Linked DNA regions of Homo sapiens: all the other regions are reported to be linked to region 6. The links are microRNA targets in miRTarBase. Many come from high-throughput screens and were not tested one by one. Region 6 holds a microRNA gene; each other region holds the end of a gene's coding sequence.

What was found. The annotated mature microRNA hsa-miR-200b-3p reads UAAUACUGCCUGGUAAUGAUGA and lies in region 6 at 1,882-1,903, opposite strand. An mRNA with a match to its seed (bases 2 to 7 or 8) in the 3' UTR can be bound and repressed. Matches are read on the target gene's strand: a 7mer-m8 pairs with bases 2 to 8, a 7mer-A1 pairs with bases 2 to 7 and ends in A, and an 8mer does both.
Region 1: miRTarBase lists STX16 as a target of hsa-miR-200b-3p. Seed matches in the 3' UTR shown: 8mer at 2,406-2,413.
Region 2: the mRNA of EP300 is a reported target of hsa-miR-200b-3p. Seed matches in the 3' UTR shown: 7mer-A1 at 969-975.
Region 3: miRTarBase lists CCNE2 as a target of hsa-miR-200b-3p. Seed matches in the 3' UTR shown: 7mer-A1 at 1,237-1,243 and 7mer-m8 at 1,502-1,508.
Region 4: miRTarBase lists RASSF2 as a target of hsa-miR-200b-3p. The part of its 3' UTR that is shown has no 7-base or 8-base seed match.
Region 5: the mRNA of FN1 is a reported target of hsa-miR-200b-3p. Seed matches in the 3' UTR shown: 7mer-m8 at 2,309-2,315 and 7mer-m8 at 2,023-2,029.
Region 7: the mRNA of SP1 is a reported target of hsa-miR-200b-3p. Seed matches in the 3' UTR shown: 7mer-m8 at 123-129.

The regions. Positions count from the first base shown.
Region 1 is chr20:58,675,952-58,679,032 of GRCh38, reverse strand. It overlaps STX16 (syntaxin 16), which reads right to left. Exons shown (of 9, transcript NM_001001433.3): 9 at 1-2,846. The coding sequence ends at 2,742. The region is part of intron 8 of STX16-NPEPL1 (STX16-NPEPL1 readthrough (NMD candidate)); the gene reads right to left. Among named protein-coding and RNA genes, the nearest start is that of NPEPL1, 15 kb to the left of the region's middle. RefSeq lists enhancers at 2,156-2,680, 2,681-3,081.
Region 2 is chr22:41,178,657-41,181,733 of GRCh38, forward strand. EP300 (EP300 lysine acetyltransferase) reads left to right here. Exons shown (of 31, transcript NM_001429.4): 31 at 1-1,421. The coding sequence ends at 300. Among named protein-coding and RNA genes, the nearest start is that of EP300-AS1, 17 kb to the right of the region's middle.
Region 3 is chr8:94,878,794-94,881,860 of GRCh38, reverse strand. CCNE2 (cyclin E2) reads left to right here. Exons shown (of 12, transcript NM_057749.3): 12 at 116-1,637. The coding sequence ends at 229. INTS8 (integrator complex subunit 8) reads right to left here. Exons shown (of 27, transcript NM_017864.4): 27 at 115-1,743. The coding sequence ends at 1,627. Among named protein-coding and RNA genes, the nearest start is that of CCNE2, 15 kb to the left of the region's middle.
Region 4 is chr20:4,781,691-4,784,771 of GRCh38, reverse strand. It overlaps RASSF2 (Ras association domain family member 2), which reads left to right. Exons shown (of 12, transcript NM_014737.3): 12 at 430-3,081. The coding sequence ends at 499. Among named protein-coding and RNA genes, the nearest start is that of RASSF2, 40 kb to the left of the region's middle.
Region 5 is chr2:215,358,996-215,362,060 of GRCh38, forward strand. It overlaps FN1 (fibronectin 1), which reads right to left. Exons shown (of 46, transcript NM_212482.4): 45 at 2,974-3,065; 46 at 1,870-2,631. The coding sequence ends at 2,560. It also overlaps a transcript of ATIC not described here. Among named protein-coding and RNA genes, the nearest start is that of ATIC, 48 kb to the left of the region's middle.
Region 6 is chr1:1,165,982-1,169,062 of GRCh38, reverse strand. MIR200B (microRNA 200b) reads right to left here and starts at 1,959; the gene lies at 1,865-1,959. MIR200BHG (MIR200B, MIR200A and MIR429 host gene) reads right to left here. Exons shown (of 2, transcript XR_007065348.1): 2 at 1-3,081. MIR200A (microRNA 200a) reads right to left here and starts at 1,200; the gene lies at 1,111-1,200. MIR429 (microRNA 429) reads right to left here and starts at 58; the gene lies at 1-58.
Region 7 is chr12:53,410,778-53,413,858 of GRCh38, reverse strand. SP1 (Sp1 transcription factor) reads right to left here. Exons shown (of 6, transcript NM_138473.3): 6 at 1-2,932. The coding sequence ends at 2,619. Among named protein-coding and RNA genes, the nearest start is that of AMHR2, 12 kb to the left of the region's middle.

The DNA of each region.
Region 1 (3,081 bases), not on the chromosome of region 6:
TTTAAAGGAGGCATGTGTCCAGAGGCTGCATCCAGGGATGCCCAGAGGGAGCCTGCCCTGCTAGGCCTCCTCTCAGAGGGCGCATCCCAGGCAGAGGAGACTGGCCTGGGTGATCGTTACCTCCACGGCCCAGTAGAGTGTGGAAAAACATGAGGTGCCCACAGACAATGGCTGCCAGCGAGTAAAGGGAAAGAAACCCTGAGGTACCATGATTCTTTTCTCTTACTTCCTCAAATGCTACTGATCTCTCCCCAAGTACAGGCTCAACAGAAAAATACAGTGGTTTGAGGACCCCAAGAAGTCAGCACACAGGCCAGGGGCCAGCTCCAGGCTGGGTCTGTCTCTCCCACCTTGGGAAACCCAGCGCTAAAACAATTTTTTTTTTTTTTTTTTGAGACGGAGCCTCGCTCTGTCACCCAGGCTGGAGTGCAGTGGTGTGATCTCGGCTCACTGCAACCTCTGCCTCCCGGGTTCAAGCTATTCTCCTGCCTCAGCCTCTTGAGTAGCTGGGATTACAGGCGTGTCCCACCCGGCTAATTTTTGTATTTTTTGTAGAGACGGGGTTTCACCATGTTGGCTAGGCTGGTCTCGAACTCCTGACCTCGTGACCGCCTTGGCCTCTCAAAGTCTGGGATTACAGGCGTGAGCCACCGAGCCCAGCCCCTCCTTAAAACAGTTTCTAATCAGATCCGTTATTTTACCCAAATGGGTTGAGGGAACAAAAACCAACCCTCATCACCCTATTTGGTGAAAATAAATATAAAAAAAGATGATCCTCTCTTAAAGGGTCACTTTCCTTCAGGGGTTTGTAAGGCTCAGCACTTTAAAAAGCTTGAACAGAAGTCCGGTATTGCCACTGTGGACTGTTTTTGAGGCAAGTTCCCTAATGTGGACAGCCCCACACCTAAGAGCAGCAGATCTAACTTGGAACGTCTCAACCATGGGTTAAAATCAGATGGGATGAAAGAACACCTGCAGTGACTCTCAACAGCTACGGAAGTCTCACATTGCAGGGCTGACTGATGAGGTGCTGGCTTCTTATTCTCCGGCCCTCTTTCCTAAGCAATGTTTGTCAGGGAATACCAGGTCCGCTTCCTGAAATGCCAGGGCCCCTCTAGGACCTTATCATTCCACAGCCACATCAGTAATAGGAAAACCACCAATGGCTACCTGGAGGTGGCACCAACTTGGAAAGGGAAGGCTGGGCAGGGGTTTGGACACTAAGCCCATGAGCTGTTTGGACAACTTCAATCTCTGGAATTGAGTTTAAATTTCTGTAAACAACTTTAAAGTCAACTCTAGAGAGACATTTTGTGTGACTGGTCCAAATAAAACAGCACATTTAATGAGGTCATATTCTTCTTAAACTTTTTAAGAGAAGCAAAAACAATGGAAAAGCCATTAAAATTTACACAAAGACCATTAAAACTCTACTAGTGTCAATTAAAACAAAGCCAATAAAACATGAACAACTTCAAAGTTACCATCACTTTCCACACTGTTCTACAGTTATAGGAATATATTCAAGCACCATATTGATAATAGGTAGGTAAACGATGAAGTCCTACTTTGGCGGTCTGACCCACGCTCACACAAACGAGGAGCTTCCTAGTCAAGATGCCCCCAGTCCTTGGCAATGTGCCTGCTTCCTGGGCATTGCTCAGTGGCAATGGAAGAGCCAATAAATCAAATCGCTGGTGGAATATTTTACTTTGAAATGGAGTGATGTTTGGTTAATAATTTGAGATCCACTAATCCTAAATGGGGTGACCCATTTAAAATGGCCTCTGTGTAAATTCACAGTTCATTAAATAGAGTCTGGTTTGAACAGGTCATTATGTAGTTAGTATATAAGTAATGGATTGAGCAAGGATGGCTGGGGATACCCATGGGGACACACTGGCTGAGTCTGGTGGCTTTCATAACACTGTCAAGCTTTCTTTTAATGTGAGATTCATTTAAATCACCAACTTAAATTTAGGTGGTTTTGCTTAGTAACCTCTTTTGGTTTACAGTAGAAAATGCAGTGCAAAAATTTTAAATGAGGAATATTCCATTTACAATTAATTTAAAACTTATGAAGCTGTTTTAACTGGCCCATCTAAATGTGTTAATTAACATCAATGATGGTTTCTTATTTTTCACACTTTGTTACTCTGATCATTAACAGTGATGGAAAAGCTAAATTAAGTTAATGGGGAACGGATTATAAATTCTTAAAGGACTTCTTAGTTTGTTTTCAACTGGAAAATATATAGAGAAAGATGAAGGGGCATTTTTGCCTCTACTCATCAATTTTTGGTACCAAATTTCTTAAAAACCAGATGGTTTAAAGAAAATTTTTCCAAAAATTATGTTAACATTCTGCTCAGACATGGCTGCTAAAAAAATAGCATATACACATATAATACTGAACAGCTTCTGCAGTGCCTGTAAACTCTCAGCTCATTTTCTCTTTCTAAAAAAAATATATATTATAACTGATCCCAGAACTCAATCTCTATTGTGCAGCAGTATCAAAGGTCCTTAAATTCTCAACAATGAAGGAAAAACAAAAACCCATTCCCCGGACCGCTTGAGCAGGACTAGGGAAGGAGGAGTCCGTGGATGCAAAGGTTCGCTGCCCCGACGCCCTCAGATTCCTCGAGGCTGCACCTCTGCGGGCAGCTGGCGGGGCGCAGGCCAAGCCCCTCACACCCGGGAGATCCACACGCGCGGCACACACGAAAACCCAATGCCACTTATCGAGACTTCACGCCAACGAGGACAACAATGAGCACAATGATGATGACAAATAATATTAAAATCACAAGCATCTTCCGATTCTTCTTTTGATACTGTTCTGCCTACAAAAAGAGGAGGGAAAAAAGGCCGTCATTTTCCCCAAAATCCCAAATCAAGTCCCACTCGTTTCCAGAATGAGGCTTCCAGATCTCTCTGCACAGTGACTGAGGTCTCTGCTACAGGCTACATGATTGTAATCCCTCCAATCAATCCCACGGAATTCAATCACCAGGAGTGGAAGAGCCCCATGATCCTGGTGCTGCTTATTTACCCTGGACGTGGAAATGGATTTGTTGG
Region 2 (3,077 bases), not on the chromosome of region 6:
CCACGGCCACAGTCCCAGCCCCCCCACTCCAGTCCTTCCCCAAGGATGCAGCCTCAGCCTTCTCCACACCACGTTTCCCCACAGACAAGTTCCCCACATCCTGGACTGGTAGCTGCCCAGGCCAACCCCATGGAACAAGGGCATTTTGCCAGCCCGGACCAGAATTCAATGCTTTCTCAGCTTGCTAGCAATCCAGGCATGGCAAACCTCCATGGTGCAAGCGCCACGGACCTGGGACTCAGCACCGATAACTCAGACTTGAATTCAAACCTCTCACAGAGTACACTAGACATACACTAGAGACACCTTGTAGTATTTTGGGAGCAAAAAAATTATTTTCTCTTAACAAGACTTTTTGTACTGAAAACAATTTTTTTGAATCTTTCGTAGCCTAAAAGACAATTTTCCTTGGAACACATAAGAACTGTGCAGTAGCCGTTTGTGGTTTAAAGCAAACATGCAAGATGAACCTGAGGGATGATAGAATACAAAGAATATATTTTTGTTATGGCTGGTTACCACCAGCCTTTCTTCCCCTTTGTGTGTGTGGTTCAAGTGTGCACTGGGAGGAGGCTGAGGCCTGTGAAGCCAAACAATATGCTCCTGCCTTGCACCTCCAATAGGTTTTATTATTTTTTTTAAATTAATGAACATATGTAATATTAATAGTTATTATTTACTGGTGCAGATGGTTGACATTTTTCCCTATTTTCCTCACTTTATGGAAGAGTTAAAACATTTCTAAACCAGAGGACAAAAGGGGTTAATGTTACTTTAAAATTACATTCTATATATATATAAATATATATAAATATATATTAAAATACCAGTTTTTTTTCTCTGGGTGCAAAGATGTTCATTCTTTTAAAAAATGTTTAAAAAAAAAAAAAAACTGCCTTTCTTCCCCTCAAGTCAACTTTTGTGCTCCAGAAAATTTTCTATTCTGTAAGTCTGAGCGTAAAACTTCAAGTATTAAAATAATTTGTACATGTAGAGAGAAAAATGACTTTTTCAAAAATATACAGGGGCAGCTGCCAAATTGATGTATTATATATTGTGGTTTCTGTTTCTTGAAAGAATTTTTTTCGTTATTTTTACATCTAACAAAGTAAAAAAATTAAAAAGAGGGTAAGAAACGATTCCGGTGGGATGATTTTAACATGCAAAATGTCCCTGGGGGTTTCTTCTTTGCTTGCTTTCTTCCTCCTTACCCTACCCCCCACTCACACACACACACACACACACACACACACACACACACACACACTTTCTATAAAACTTGAAAATAGCAAAAACCCTCAACTGTTGTAAATCATGCAATTAAAGTTGATTACTTATAAATATGAACTTTGGATCACTGTATAGACTGTTAAATTTGATTTCTTATTACCTATTGTTAAATAAACTGTGTGAGACAGACACCCTGACTTTGTTTCACTTGATAACACATCTTTGTCTTGGAGTACACCCGTTTTAAGTGCCTAATGCTTAGGATTCAGAGGAAAAAGTGAAAGCATTAGCTTATAGCCTCTTTAATCTACTACGTATAATGTATTCACAAGTAGATCTTGGTGAATTTATCCAAAGTTCTGGGAAAAAGTACTGCAGGTACCAGCTAACAGTCAAGGTGGAAGTGATAACCTACTTAACACCTTGATACAGGACCCCTTAAGGATGACCTCATGGTCTTCCAATCACCTTCATCTTACAGGGATGAGAAGGAGGACCTAAGAAGACGGATCATATCTGCCTAAGTCCCAAGTAACTTCTTGGAAAAAACAAGACTTGCCAGGCATGGTGGCTCACGCCTATAATCCCAACATTTTGGGAGGCCAAGGCAGGCAGATCACGAGGTCAGGAGTTCAAGACCAGCCTGGCCAATATGGTGAAACCCCCATCTCTACTAAAAATCAGCAGGGCGTGGTGGTGGGCACCTGCCGTCCCAGCTACTTGGGAGGCTGAGGCAGGAGAATCAGATCCTGGTGGAGGTTGCAGTTAGCCAGGATCTCACCACTGCACTCCAAAGACTCCGTCTTTTAAAAACAGAGAAGATGAAGCTAGGGGAACACTCCTGTTTGCTAACTGAATACAAAGAAGTCAGTTGGAATCGGGTTGAAGGGAAGGAAAATGTGTGGAAATAAAACCTAGAAGGCTGAGAGAGATTACACATGAGTCCAGTAATATGCTAGATGCTCAAAGAATGGAGAGATTATTGATCCTCCATCTGAACATTGCAGTAGCTGTGAACAAGTTGTTAAAACAAATGTGTTAGTACACTAAAAAGTACTGAGCTGCTTTGGTATCAATTCCAGATCTTTCTTTTATCACAGAGATTTACACTAACCATATATGACTGCTAAAGGATTTCAGATACGTTGACCTGTTGCTACTATTTTAGTCTGAAAACAACCAGCATCTTTTTTTTTTAAGACAGTCTCGTCACCCAGGCTGGAATGCAGTGGCACAATTGTAGTTCACTGTAGCCTCAAACTCATGGGCTGAAGCAGTCCTCTTACCTCAGCCTCCCTAGTAGCTGGGACTCAAAGGTGTGTACCATCATGCCTGGCTGACTTTTTAAAATTTTTATAGAGACAGGGTCTTGCTATGTTACCCAGTCTGGTCTCGAACTCCTGGACTCAAGTGATCCTCCACCTTGGCCTCCCAAATTGCTGGGATTACAGGCATGAGCCACCTTACCAGCATCTTAATGTGAGGTGAACTCACTCAGCATTAATCAGAGCCAGCCCCAGAAAATGTATCTAGTATCAAGCATCCAGCATCCACCTGCTTCAGCTCAGTGACCCCGCAGATATCCATGGAGCAGCTACATCTGTGCCAGGCCAGGCAGAGCACACATGAACAGCATGCAGCCCTGCCCTCAACCTAACCAGCTTAAGGTCTAGAAGACAGCATGACAAAGTACAAAGCACCAAGTGATCTATGCAAGGAATGCAAGAGGGAATCCATGAAAGAAAACCTAGCTGATGGGAATTGGAAATGTTTCTGGAAAGGGTAGCATGGAAGCTGGATGTTGGAGGAGAGATAGGAAGAGGAGGAGAGGAGGCGGCGCCCAGAAG
Region 3 (3,067 bases), not on the chromosome of region 6:
TGCAAAGACATAAAAAGACTATTAAAATTAGGCCTAAATAATCTCAAATAAGTACCCAGAAGTCTGGTTTGACTTTGATTTATGAAATCAGTGCATGATTTCTTCCCATGTATAGGAGGAAGTAAATTACATAAACACCTTCAGAAAAGGGGGACAGTTGTCACCAGTGTGCAATGGAGGCATTATGACACCACCGAAGAGCACTGAAAAACCACCAGGAAAACACTAAAGAAGATAACTAAGCAAACAAGTTGGAATTCACCAAGATTGGGTAGAACTGGTATCACTGAACTACTAAAGTTTTACAGAAAGTAGTGCTGTGATTGATTGCCCTAGCCAATTCACAAGTTACACTGCCATTCTGATTTTAAAACTTACAATTGGCACTAAAGAATACATTTAATTATTTCCTATGTTAGCTGTTAAAGAAACAGCAGGACTTGTTTACAAAGATGTCTTCATTCCCAAGGTTACTGGATAGAAGCCAACCACAGTCTATACCATAGCAATGTTTTTCCTTTAATCCAGTGTTACTGTGTTTATCTTGATAAACTAGGAATTTTGTCACTGGAGTTTTGGACTGGATAAGTGCTACCTTAAAGGGTATACTAAGTGATACAGTACTTTGAATCTAGTTGTTAGATTCTCAAAATTCCTACACTCTTGACTAGTGCAATTTGGTTCTTGAAAATTAAATTTAAACTTGTTTACAAAGGTTTAGTTTTGTAATAAGGTGACTAATTTATCTATAGCTGCTATAGCAAGCTATTATAAAACTTGAATTTCTACAAATGGTGAAATTTAATGTTTTTTAAACTAGTTTATTTGCCTTGCCATAACACATTTTTTAACTAATAAGGCTTAGATGAACATGGTGTTCAACCTGTGCTCTAAACAGTGGGAGTACCAAAGAAATTATAAACAAGATAAATGCTGTGGCTCCTTCCTAACTGGGGCTTTCTTGACATGTAGGTTGCTTGGTAATAACCTTTTTGTATATCACAATTTGGGTGAAAAACTTAAGTACCCTTTCAAACTATTTATATGAGGAAGTCACTTTACTACTCTAAGATATCCCTAAGGAATTTTTTTTTTTAATTTAGTGTGACTAAGGCTTTATTTATGTTTGTGAAACTGTTAAGGTCCTTTCTAAATTCCTCCATTGTGAGATAAGGACAGTGTCAAAGTGATAAAGCTTAACACTTGACCTAAACTTCTATTTTCTTAAGGAAGAAGAGTATTAAATATATACTGACTCCTAGAAATCTATTTATTAAAAAAAGACATGAAAACTTGCTGTACATAGGCTAGCTATTTCTAAATATTTTAAATTAGCTTTTCTAAAAAAAAAATCCAGCCTCATAAAGTAGATTAGAAAACTAGATTGCTAGTTTATTTTGTTATCAGATATGTGAATCTCTTCTCCCTTTGAAGAAACTATACATTTATTGTTACGGTATGAAGTCTTCTGTATAGTTTGTTTTTAAACTAATATTTGTTTCAGTATTTTGTCTGAAAAGAAAACACCACTAATTGTGTACATATGTATTATATAAACTTAACCTTTTAATACTGTTTATTTTTAGCCCATTGTTTAAAAAATAAAAGTTAAAAAAATTTAACTGCTTAAAAGTAAAGTTTTGCCATTGCTTGGAGAAACTTTTTTTTCCTTCTCTGCGCTGCCAGCTGTAACACTTCTTCTGGATTGCTTGCATTCAACTCTGTCTGGCCGATGGCTTTGATCTTCCAAAACAGAAAAGTGATGTTATTAGAGGTGTGTCAAAAATTAAGTTTTGTTGGTACAAGTAATATAAAGCTACCTACGTGCTAACAACGATACAGTTTAATGATTAACTGAACCTCTTAACTGTAAAACCCAGGAGTCTTGGAAAAAAATTAACATAAAGATTAACCAGGGCCACTCTCAAGGAAAGATGGACTGCTGAGCCATAGTTTATGGAATTACTTAAGTGGCATTTTAATATATTAAGTAAATTCATGTAAATTTATTTGAAAGTATAAGTAAGCTCTACATGGCGATTTTTAGAGTTAAACTAGGGCTCCACTTGTTAATGTGCAAAAATAACTGGTGGCTCAGCACTATGGTAGCATATAGTTGCTCAACTTTTCATGATTAGAAAGAAGTGCCTCAACCAACTAAATATACACACTAGTTTTTTGCTATGGACTGTTTAGGGCCTTAAAATCTATAGATGATTTAAAAAAAAAAAAAAGGTTTTTTTTTGTTTGTTTTTTGTTTTTTTTGAGATGGAGCTTCATTCTTGTCGCCCAGGTTGGAGTGCAATGGCGTGATCTCAGCTCACTACAGCCTTTGCCTCCCAGGTTCAAGTGATTCTCCTGCCTCAGCCTCCCAAGTAGCTGGGATTACAGACGCCCGCCATCTCGTCCGTCTAATTTTTGTATTTTTTAGTAGAGACGGGGTTTCACCACGTTGGCCAGGCTGCTCTCAAACTCCTGACCTCAGGTGATCCGCCACCTCAGCCTCCCAAAGTGGTGGGATTACAGGCGTGAGCCACTGCACCCGGCCTAGAATTTCTTTAAACAATAAGACTTCTGATATGTAGCTTGAAGAGAGAAATGACTATTCAGATATGATCGTCAGGTATGGGAAGTTGGGGAATAGGAGAAATTGCTGGATGATGCCATTTCAACATGAAGGAATGCATGTGGCAAAAGTTGGTAGTAGAGTATAACCAGAGTTGTTTCAAACAGGTATCCCAAAGATAACTGGCTATAAAAACCCGAAGTGTGAGACAGAAGTTGGAATAGGAGCCAGATATTTGAGAGCAGTAATACACCCCATGTGGACAGTAATCAAAACCGAGAGTGGATTAAATTACCTAGGGAGAATGCAGGGTTACAGAAAAGTAACCCAAGGACTAACTTCTTGAGAAAACCAAGTTTAAGGAGTAGGCAGAAGGAGACACCCAAAACAAAAAGGAAGAAATAGAGAAAGTAATCCAATAAAAATGATGTCAGGGAAGCCAAAGGAATAAAGACTTTCAAGAAGGAAGGAGATGTAATCAGGAAAAGGACTGAAAAGTAT
Region 4 (3,081 bases), not on the chromosome of region 6:
CAAGAGGGTCAACTGTTAGCAATTTTATATCATCTAGCCTAGGTGAGGGTTCATGAGCTGCTGTGCATATGAAGTACTATGCATAGTGTCTTGGACATAGTAAGCAAACGCACTGAATTCGTAGAATGCTTATTATTGCTGTTGTTTTTTTTTACCTTTTTTTTTTTTTTTTTTTTTTTGGCTAGATGTTCTACCCATAGTAAAATAATCTAATTTGGATTTGGCCTCTTTATTTCCTCTCATCGTGTTGTAGGAATGAACATAAGCAACAAAGTAGCTAAAGAGGGGTCAGTAATGGAAGCAAAGGAGCAGGGCACTTGACTGCACTGTTACCTGGTGTGACCTTGGTGTTACCCAGGTGGCCGGGAAGGTCCTGGGCAGGGGTGTGTTGCTGGCTGCTCTCCATCTGAGCCTGTTTCTTGTCTCCAGGTACACCGTGCTCCGGCTAATGATTCGACAGAGGCTGGAGGAGATAGCCGAGACCCCAGCAACAATCTGAGCCATGAGAACGAGGGGATCTGGGCACCCCAGGAACCGCCATTGCCCATAAGACCCCCAGGAAGCTAGGCACTTTCTTTCCATGGAAACATTTAGACACAAACCTCCCCAGCTCCGGCCAAGCCATCATTTGCTACCTGGAGCTGGATGTAGAAGTCAGCAGACAGCTCCCTATCCCTGGACCCCTGCCCTCCTTTTTTCTGCTCACAAGGACTTTTGATTTTAGTTATAAGGAGGACCCAAAATGTGTGTGTGTACATGTGTGTGCACACATGGTACGTGTCCATGTGCCTACCTGATACTTTCACATGTAATTAAATTCCAGGCAACCAGCACAAGAGCCGTGAGCTTGGCACATGTGCTGCTCGTGAGCAGGAAAATCAGAGGAGCCACTGATCTGAGTGGTATTTAGGTTGAAGGAAAGATTTCTCCTCTCAAGTGCCAGGGAGCAGCCACACGTCTGTCTGTGTTTAGAGAGGGAAGAGGGTTCTCCAGGTTCACCATTTGGGTTGTTTATATGTTGGTAGAAATTCTCCCTGTATGCCTAGAAGGATCAGTGAATGTAAGAGCCTTGGAAATTAACAAAATAACAGCCACATAACCTTGCGGCAAGTCTGATGGAAAGAAAAAGATAAACCATCCGTGGGGTAGATGCAATAAGCCCACGTATTTTTACACTGGAAACGTTGATTGTTTTAAATGACAAAGACATATGTGATGTTCTATGTGGAAACCTGTGAAGAGTGGATTCTGCCTCCATCTCTGCCTCCATGGCTACCTTTAGGAGACAGAGAAGATCCTGTGTGTTTCTCTGTACCCAGCTGACAGCCTGTCTCTATGGCGCTTCCTTGAGTGGAAGGAAATGTCTCAAGAAACAAAGATCTCGCTGGTGCGTACACAGTGCTGACCAGCTAGTGTGGCCAGGGCCTGGTGGCCTGGTGGCCAGGAAGTTTCAGGTTGAAGGGAAATGTCGAGGCTACCTGCAGATATGACAGGTGCCTTGAACGCAGCCCATCTTCATGTCATCAAAGGTCTTCCTGCACTTGAAGCTGGGGCGATGTTTGCAGTCAAGACCATTCTTTCCAACCTCTGGGTTCTTGCAAGTTGCCCTCACCTTGTGTGTGGAGATGCATTCCAAGAATGAAGCCTCATCTTGCTACTGAGTGTGGGGTTCAGGGAAGCTCTTTAGGCCACCTGGTGAAGGTGCATGGGGAGGATGGAGCTTCTCCTCAGCTCCTCTGAGCAGCCACCTATGTGATCTTTAAATCCAACCCCAATGGGAGAAAAGGGCAAGAACAGTCTGTGCCCTGGGACTCCTATCAGGAAGCTTGACAGGCAGCTGGGCATCAGTGCAGCTGATATCGTTTGAGGAGGGAGACAGATGCTTGGACCTGGGTGCCTGGCTATGGAGATTGACCAAGCAAGATCAGGAGCTCCTGATAGCAGGCGTCTTTGAGCCTAGCTGGGGTAGAGGCACTGCCCATCTCTTCTCCACCTTCTCTCCACAGAATGTTTGCAGAGCTGGGCAGTTGAGGAAAGGACAGCCCCTGGTTGGTGCCTCCAAAGGAAGGTGGACTTTTTTGGTGGAGACGTTTCTGCCCTGGGCACCCTCCTGCCCCCGATTCATACCTATGGCTTCTTGAGAAGGCTCACAGCTGTGGTCTTAACGTAGACTGCAGAAAGATGGCATGCGGCCCCTGGCATTTCGCCAAGGGTTTTATAGCAAGTCTCCTTCCTCCATAGGGACAGCAGCACCAGCCCTGTGGGGCATGGAGTGGAAGCCCAGAAGGGCTTCTGCAAGCTGCACAGAACTGGGGTAAGAAGACAAAGAGTAGCCACCGGGAGAGGCTTCCTTTGTTACAGCTGGGAAAGAACAGTTCTGTGAATGCAAACACCTCCTGAGTTTTGCAATTGAGAAAATGATTTGGAGAACTTCTCTTCTGGTAATTTTTATTTTGAATGTTCAGGGCCTTAGTTGGCCCCAGTAATTCTCCTTGGAGGACTTGGGAGAAGAATTTCCACAAAGCAAACTACTAACCACTAGCTCTTACTGGACAGCGATTTCTGGCTTATAAGAGTTCTCTTTGATTTGCACTAGCACTACGATAGTGTTAGATGGGGAAATACTGCAACATGTCCAGTTGGCCAGATCACTTTCCAAGGGAGCGATACTAAGGCAGACTCAGCTTTTTAAAGATGGGAGGTCAGGAGGTGGAAGTGAGAGGAGATCCCATCTCACACAACACACTTCCACGTAATGCAGACCACACTTTTCCATTTTGTCCTGCCCTCTTGAGAGGTCATTTCTCACGTCCTAAGAACCTGATCAGAAATTTTGGAAGGGTTCTTTGAAATAGCAGCAGTTGAAACAGAGACACTTTGCCACAGTGTGGAGCAGATTTTCTCACTGGTATCACATGGTCTTGCAGTTTTGAACTCTTCGACCGATTTGTGGGAGTTTATGTAATTGCGTGCAATGAACCTGAAATTGTGTAAAGGACAAAAGACCAGTTTATAGGGTTGGGTTTTTTTTCCAACTTGTGAAAAGCAGTTTAGCTGCATCTGTCTCCCCACCACCCCCAC
Region 5 (3,065 bases), not on the chromosome of region 6:
TCTCAGTCTCCCGAGTTATGGGGACCACAGGCATGTGCCACCATGCCTGGCTAATTGTTTTATTTTTTGTAGAGACAGGGGTCTCGCTATGTTACCCAGACTGGCCTTGAACTCCCGAGCTCAAGCAACCCTCCCACCTCGGCGCCTCAAAGTACTGGGATTACAGGTGTGAACCACCCTTCCCGGCCCTTACACTGCATTTTAGGGTAAATATTTTTAGGTTTGTAGTTAGGCAAGTGGTTTGAAGCATCATCAGTCTCAACCTAAAGCTGCTCTTTCCTTATGTTTTTAGATATCAAGGCTTTAAGCAAGATTCAGATGAAGGGCCTGCTTTACCAGCTCACCTATGAATATGGAAGCATCAGCTTACTTTTTGCAGCACATGTGTCTCAGGGGGTTGTCCCTTCCCACAGTGTGTAGATTGGCATCGAGATGACGTTCTCTCTCCAGGGTGCAGTGATGACCGACATATGTGAGACAGTCGTTTAATATCACCTTTATTTTGTACTTTCTGTGATTTTTAAAAAACATACAGAGCAGCTCTCTTGGTGACTATTGGGCTGATAAAGCTTAAAGATCAGTAATAAATAGAAGTCCAGGGGCTGGGTCTGTATTTCGCTAAGGAAACCTCATCTGAGCTTCATGCCCTGTAAAATTAAGCTCTAAAACCTCCCCTAAATGAGATAGCTAAATGTCAAAGCATTTTATAAACTGTAAATCAATTCAAATGGGAGTTAGTATTTTTTTTTTTCAAATGAACATGAGGAAGTATCTTTCTGTATTTAGTTTTAATATTCTTTGCCAGGTGTTTATTGAAATACCTTCTTTCATTGTACATTAGTATATTTAAAAAGTGCTTTGCATGTCTTGTTTATTATGAACTACTAATTTTTTACTAATAATTATTTCCATTTCCACTATTTACTATTCTGAATGTCACATTTATTTATTTATGTTTTTTGGGATGGAGTCTTGCTCTGTCCCCCATGCTGGAGTTCAATGGCACAATCTCAGCTCACTGCAACCTCCGCCTTCTGGGTTCAAGCCATTCTCCTACCTCAGCCTTCTGAGTAGCCGGGACCAAAGACGCCCACTGCCATGCCTGGTAACATTTGTATTTTTAATAGAGACAAGGTTTCACCATGTTGGCCAGGCTGGTCTCAAACTCCTGACCTCAGGTGATCCACCTGCCTCAGCCTCCCAAAGTGCTGGGATTAGAGGTGTGAGCCACTGCGCCTGGCCTGAATGTCAAATTTAATCCCAAAGTTTGTTTCCTCAATGTTAAATTGAAAAAGAAATGACCTTTACAGATCAGGAGTAAACAAACTGTTTAGCTGGGAGTTTATCAAGCCATGCCAAAAGTGTCAGCTGACCCAAAGTAAGACATGTTAGATGGGGGTTATCATACCATGGGGTTTCCCTAAGATAAAACTCCTCCATATTATACTATTCAAATACTTTTAATATCTTAGTCATTTTTATTTCCCTTGCAGGCAATCTCTTTGAACAGAGGTTTATTCAATGAAGGAAAGGTGGAGGGAAGAAGGGAAGAATTACAATGGTTAGAAAAGAGCAACTAAAGATTATTTCTATTATACTTCTGAACGGTAAACTAGCAATTTTAATAAATATTGGGGTCCACTTAAATCTATTAAAGCAGAAAGTGTAAAGCTATCTCCATTAGTGAAGAGATGAAGTGACAAAAACCAATCAGTTTTTGTAGCAACTGATTTAGAAAATCTTGTACTGAAATCAACAATTAGACTTGCACATCATAGATTTTCAAATGTTTGCTGAATTGAAAAAGAATATTCACAGGAATTATTTCCCCCGAAGGTGTCTTATATCAAATAGATGAACTTCAAGTTGTGGAATGTAAATCTTTTATTAAAACAGTTGTCTTTCCACAGTAGTAAAGCTTTGGCACATACAGTATAAAAAATAATCACCCACCATAATTATACCAAATTCCTCTTATCAACTGCATACTAAGTGTTTTCAATACAATTTTTTCCGTATAAAAATACTGGGAAAAATTGATAAATAACAGGTAAGAGAAAGATATTTCTAGGCAATTACTAGGATCATTTGGAAAAAGTGAGTACTGTGGATATTTAAAATATCACAGTAACAAGATCATGCTTGTTCCTACAGTATTGCGGGCCAGACACTTAAGTGAAAGCAGAAGTGTTTGGGTGACTTTCCTACTTAAAATTTTGGTCATATCATTTCAAAACATTTGCATCTTGGTTGGCTGCATATGCTTTCCTATTGATCCCAAACCAAATCTTAGAATCACTTCATTTAAAATACTGAGCGGTATTGAATACTTCGAAGCAGAACAGGCAATGTGCAGCCCTCATTTATGAGAAAACCCTCAGGAAACTCCCAGGGTGATGCTTGGAGAAGCTGTGAGTTGAGCTGAAGCTGGAGAACTTCCTCCAGAGCAAAGGGCTTAAGAAAGAAAGAAGAACTCTAAGCTGGGTCTGCTAACATCACTCCAGTTTAGATGGATCTTGGCAGAGAGACATGCTTGTTCCTCTGGATTGGAAAGATGATTTACTCTCGGGAATCTTCTCTGTCAGCCTGTACATCTAAAGGCATGAAGCACTCAATTGGGCAATTAACATTCTGTTAAAAAGGAAGAAGGAAAAAAAAATTAGTGGCAAATACTGTAAAGTGTACAGAAAAAAAAATGCGGGGAGGTGGGGACTCATGACAGCTGCTTATAGATAGGATAATATTTCTTCCTAGTTTCAAGAACCTAGCAGCATACTGGGCAATAGGAGATGTTCAAGAGTTACATAAATTATAACTTAAACTATATTATGGAATACAGTGTTTCACTTAAGTCATTTATGAGTTGTTTTTTTTTTTAATTAATTAAAACACTTGGTTCATTCTGAAGAAAGATACCTGTAGAAAGAGACTGTCTAGTATGAGGGAACACACTTGTGCTGCTAATGCACTTACAGTGTTTGTTCTCTGATGGTATCTCTGAGAATACTGGTTGTAGGACTGGCCAGTAGTGCCTTCGGGACTGGGTTCACCCCCAGGTCTGCGGC
Region 6 (3,081 bases):
CAGTATTAGACAGAGGGCCAGGTCTAACCATGTCTGGTAAGACGCCCATCGGCCGGCGGTGGTGTGGGTGGCCTCCGGGTCCTGGGCTGGTGTCTGCGGGGCCTGTGAAGGGAAGGCCCCGGGGGCGGCTCCTGCCACCTCCTGCAGCTGCCCTGATCCCTCCTGGGTCTGCAGAACGAGCCCCCGAGGCACTTCCCTGACAGCCCCCATCCCAGCACCTGGTCCCAGCCCAGCCTGGCTGTGTGGGGGTACCCGGGAGCCACCTGGTCACCCAGGCCCTGCTCTTGGCAAAGGTTCCCTGCAGCCCCTCGCTGGCTTCCTGAAGCTCGGTCGGGTTAATGAGTAACAGTGAAGGGCAGCCTCTCCCCGGTGGCTGCCCCCTCCCCAGGCTGGGGCCTTGTGTGGGGGTGCGGTCCCAGGCGCCCTGGTTGCAGATGGAAAAGATGAAACAATGGGTCATCCTGGCCTGGTGGGTTTTGGACAAAGTTCCTGTTCTTGTTGACTGGGGGAAGGAATGAGACCCCTTGTCCCTCAGAGGGCAAGCGCAGAGCGTCCCCGCTCCCCTGCATGGTGGGGCTCGGGAATCTGAACCCACCTTGTCCTTCCTGCGCCCCCAGCAGACCCTCCACGGAGCCCGGACCACGTGAGAGAGGCCACTGTTGCTCTTCCCTCTCCAGCCCTGGCATCCCAGCCCTATGGCCTTTCCTGGAGCCAGGTCACCCTAAAACCCAGCCTGGGAGGTTGGGTGGGGGAGGCACAGCGGCTCCGGGAGGGGGAGCAGGATGCCCTCCAGGCCACCTGTGGAGGCACCAAGGGGTCCTCAAGGTGTCAGACCCAGCCTGGGCGTGAGTGACCCCGGGGGCACCCCCGGCAGAGGCCGGCCCCTCCCCTGGGGGCTGGACTTCGGAGCTGACACAGGCCCTCTGCCGCCCGCTCAGCCCTCCGCCCTCACCCGTCTGCTGGCCCCGCTCGGCCCTCCGCCCTCACCCGTCTGCTGGCCCCGCTCGGCCCTCCGCCCTCACCCGTCTGCTGGCCCCGCTCGGCCCTCCGCCCCAGCCCATCCCTGGAGTAGGAGCTCCGGATGTGCCTCGGTGGTGTCCCCGGCGAGCGGCGGGTCACCTTTGAACATCGTTACCAGACAGTGTTAGAGTCAAGCTGGGAAATCCAGCACTGTCCGGTAAGATGCTCACAGGGGCCCGGGAGGGACGTGGGGTCCCGCCAGGCAGGCAGGGGCTGCTGTGGAAGCCCAGGGAAGAACCGGAGCGGTGAGCAGCCAGGGGTGGTGCCGGGACCGGACAGGGCTGGCGGAGAGGGGCTTGGGGGCCCTGAGACTGCACACAGGCCCACCCTCCCTGCTTCCTCCAGGGCAAGGGGACCCTGGGGCTGCTGACCCGGGACCAAGGCGGGGGCACTGGTCTGCTCGGTGGCCGGCCCACCCTGTCCGGCAGGAGGGAAGATGGCTGTGGCCAAGCTGGGTGGGGCGGCTTCCTCTGGGTTCCACGTGGCTCCCGGTTGGGCCTTGCCCTCCTGAGCCCTCTGTTGGGTCCTGCTCGGCCCGCACCTGCTGGGTGTGACAGCAGCTCCCGCCCAGGCGCTGTGGGCAGGGCCCGGACACCTGAGCGTCCTAATCCCCAGATCACTGTGGGGCGCCCTGGGTGCAGCTGCAGGAGGCCTTGCATTCCGGGGTCTCTGAGATGCTGGTGGGGGGCGCCCCAGCCCCCTTCCGAAGGTCACGTCCCCCCGTCACTCTCCCCAGAGCCATCTGGCCCGGACGGGGTGGGGTCCGGTGAGCGGGCTGTGTGGGAGGGGAGTGTGGGGCTCGGCGGGAGGCCCTGGGGGCCGGGACGGGGTCGGCCGGTCGCTGCGTGCAGGGCTCCGCCGTCATCATTACCAGGCAGTATTAGAGACCTGACTCCATCCAATGCTGCCCAGTAAGATGGCCACGGCTGCCCGAGCTGGGTCCGGGGGCCGCCCGGCTGAGGGTTGCATGGGACTCGCTGGGAAGCTCAGTAGCTGGGGGGCCTCGTCCTCCTGGGGCACTGAGGACAGCATCGCCGGAGGGCAGGGGCCCGGGTGAGCCCCACCCGCCAGCCCTGCCGAGTCCAGCAGCCACCAGCTTTGGGTCCTGGGGTGGGCACCTGGGGGGCCGAAGTGTCCTGGCCAGACGGCCGAGGACTAGGTCGGAGTGGGGCTGACACGGGCCCTCTGCCCGCCCCGCTCGGCCCTCTGCCCCCACCCCTCTGCGGGGGACCTTCCCTCTGGGTGGTCCCATAGGAAGGCCTGGACAGCAGCCCCAGCCCCCCGGGCCCCACGTGCTGCCTTGTCTGAGGCAGGGGACAAGGGCCTCTGTCTCCAGGATGGTGTTCCAGGAGCTGCTTCCCTGCCCAGCCCCTTCTCTTCTCAAAGGCCCGGTGTCTGCGAGGCTCTCGAGACAGAACGGTCCCCGCCACCTGGAGACCCCTCTCCCATGCTGCCCCGCTCACTGCACAGCGTCTGAGGGCAGGGGGTGCAGGCGGGGGTGGGGGTGGGGGTGTGGGTGGGGGTGCGGGCGGGGCAGGCTCCTGACCCTGCCCAGCCGTCCCTGCGGTTTGTGTGTCTGCTGGTCTGGGGTCTGACCCAGGCACAGAGGCAGACCGGCCACAAACACAGACACAGGCAGTCAAGCCTCAGACGCCGCGAGGGCTGAGCCGCCTCTGCAGGGGGGCAGGAGGAAGTGGGCAGCCCTGTGGCCCCTCCTTGCTCAGGGCCCTGCCTGGAGCCCAGAGACCCTAGGCTTCTACTCCAGGCACACTCAGGACCCGAGGGAGGTTCAGCCCTCAGGCCAGACCAAGGCTCCCCGCCCGCTGGACACGCCGTCCTTCCTGTCCTCCTTCCCACCCTTTCTCTGCAACCACCTGGTGCCAACTGGGCCCAGAGAGCTGGCCAGAGCCACTCTTCAAGTTTTCTGGCACCTTCCACCCACAGAGGCTGTAGGTGGGGCGCAGGCCCTGTGCCGATTCCCCTGTCTGCCCGCCGACCACAACAAAGGTCGTGTCCGCCCGCCCCCGCCTGCTGCCGGGTCCACCCGGTTCCAGTCTCCTC
Region 7 (3,081 bases), not on the chromosome of region 6:
ATTCGAGAAAGAAATACCATCAAATTACCTTCTAAAAGCTTATATCCTCAGCATCATTACATTATTTTATATCTGGTAATTTCATACTGGAGAAGATTCCATTCCTTGAAATGCACTAGCAAAATACTGTACATTCCAGTGAGTTATCCTGCCCCTTTCCTCCAAAAGATGCCAAAGTACATGATTACAGACATAAAATAACAGGTTCTGAGTTCTGCCTTTCAGTGAGAATAAAGGGTATGATAGTGGCTGTGCATGGATGACTTGTATCTCAGCGTTAATAGAATTTGATCTGGGGAAAGTTCCTTGCCATAGTTCCTGAGTTGAAAACATAATTACATCTGTGGAGAAAGGACCAAATGGAGTGAACTATTGTTTAGAGTATTAAGTTACTATAGTTCAGATTAAACAACACACTTACCCAAAACTTAATTTGGATGGATTTTATATAAAATATATAATAGAATCATACCATCATCTATTTGTAGCCAAAGTAAAAAGATTTATGAGAAGAATAAGGACTCTGCTATAGATCTGGATGTTGGTTTCACTTTCAAACACAAAAATAGTTTCTTTTTAAAAAAGTACAGTAGAATATCCTCCATTCATAATTGTAATTAATTTAGCATAAGCAAAGAAATGACCTTAGGAACATACCCAGGTTTTAAGATAGATTTCTAGGTAATGGGCCTGAAAGGCATTTTGATCTGAATTTATTTTCCAACGATTTCAAATATAATTTGTCATCTGTGTGTAGACATATACGGGCATGAACACACATTCACCCACACATACAAAAACACTTGCTTTCTATCAGATCAGGGTAATTTTTTTATTGCAGGTCTCTTTTAATATTGGCTAGCAGAAAACCTATCCCCAACCTAACAGATTACACACACACACACACACACACACACACACACACACAGAGCTATTTTTCCACACTTCCTCACAGTGAAAAGCTCTCTAACAAGATACCAGAAGGTCGAGAGAGACAATGCTTTTATGGCTGGGCCTTGAGGACAATTCTGGTTGCATTTAAATCTCAGTGCCAAATGCACTAGGTTCCCTGCCGTTATAATTTTTGGATCAGTCTCTTCTGAAATCAGGTCACAGAGAAAACAGGATGATTTCTCCCAATCTCTCCTATAAAACACTGTGGTAAGACAAGATTTCTTTTTGTTCTGGGCTATCATTCCCATGATCATGTGCTTCCCTTTCCCTTAGGAACCACCCAAGAACATACAAGGAAAAGTTAAGGGAAAACATCATAAGAACCACTGTCTTGCCACTAGCACATGCTTTGGAGGAGTTCTGCAGAATGGAAACCTGAAACAGATTCACTGGCTGATGCTCCTTATTGACAATGGAAAAGAACCTAGTGGGGATGTTCAAAAGAAGTGTATTTCCTTTCAGAATATAAACTCAGAAGCCCACACATCAAAACTTAGAGCTACCTTGGAAGACAGCAGTACCAAAGTCCAAATACTCCACTAACTCCTGAACCTGACTACGAGTCATTTCCTCTTCTGAGCACATGATTTTCCTAGTGAAAGCCCCCTACCTATTATTTGAAAATTTGACAGTTTATACAAACTGAGCCAAGATTATTATCTTCAAAGGGACTCTTGTACAATTCCACTGAAAGACTTCTAATTCTTGATGCTCAGAGCAGCTAATGAAGGGAGATGCCTTTGACTCTCCAGCGCCAAGAAGGTGCCTGCGTCAGTAGTATTTTGAACACTCCCTCCACAGTTACTTCAAGCATCAGCCTGGGCTTCAAGGATTTTTCCATTCTGCTGCTGGAACTAAGGTCCTGAAAAAATTGACAGAAGTGCCTCATCCAGGCAGTAACAAAAACAAAACATGAAGTGATCAGATGAGAGAAGATGAGACGGCAACAGTTGAGTTAGGGAAGGAGTGCAAGAAGCTGATCCCAAACAAAAAGACAAAATTAAGAAAGGAAAAACATTATGTATGTATATATGAACTAAAAGCAGAGCATATGAACGCTTAAGCTGGTGGGAAGCCAAGACAACATCTACAGAAAAGCTTGATGTGTCACAACAAGGCTCAGCCATAGGGAAATAAGGCAATATAAAAAAAATGACCAAGGTATTTTGGTCACAGAATGGTCTTCCTCCTCCCAGCCAACCCCTGTGAATGCATCTCTATATATCTTTATATATATATATATATATATAATAATATAGAATCTGTTTTTTGTTAAAAAGTATTTCAATGATCATATATATTTATCAAGGCATGATGGCTTTAGGAAAGGGGGGGGAATCCATCATGGAAGAGCTGAGAAGAGAAATGCAGGAAGGGTAGGCTGGGGTAAGAAGTGTAAGAAGAAACTGGGGTCAAACAAATGCTCATCAAAGCGTGGCACCAACAGAATTTTCACTAATGTTTCCCACCTTCAAAGAGGCACTGATGATACAGATGGGTGCCGGGACCCCATCTCCTCTCTTGTATCCCTCTCCTGATTCTTCTCAACACCATGCATTTTAATGCTTCATGGCTCTCTCTTCCATGTCTCTTGGACCCATGCTACCTTGCATCCCGGGGTTAAGGGGTATGGCCCATATGTCTCTGGCCCCGGGTGCCTGATCTCAGAAGCCATTGCCACTGATATTAATGGACTGCAGATCTGCCACCTGCATGACGTTGATGCCACTGTTGGCAAGACGGGCAATGCCCTCTGGACAGATGGCCTCCATGGCTACCATATTGGTGGTAATAAGGGCTGAAGGAGTGGCAGTGCCACTGCCTTCTGAACCTGCCCCACTGTCCAGGGGCAAAGTGCCCACACTCAGAGCTACACCTGGGCCTCCCTTCTTATTCTGGTGGGTCTTGATATGTTTTGACAGGTGGTCACTCCTCATGAAGCGCTTAGGACACTCAGGGCAGGCAAATTTCTTCTCACCTAGGTAAAGGAAGAAAAGATAAGAAGCTGACATGTTAGGAAGTGAGGTTACCTTACCCAATTCAGTGCTTACTCTACTAAGCTGAGTAAGGCCAGTATGAGAAGGTGATCAAAAACAAGAAAAATCTTCAAGTGGCTGGGCGTGGTGG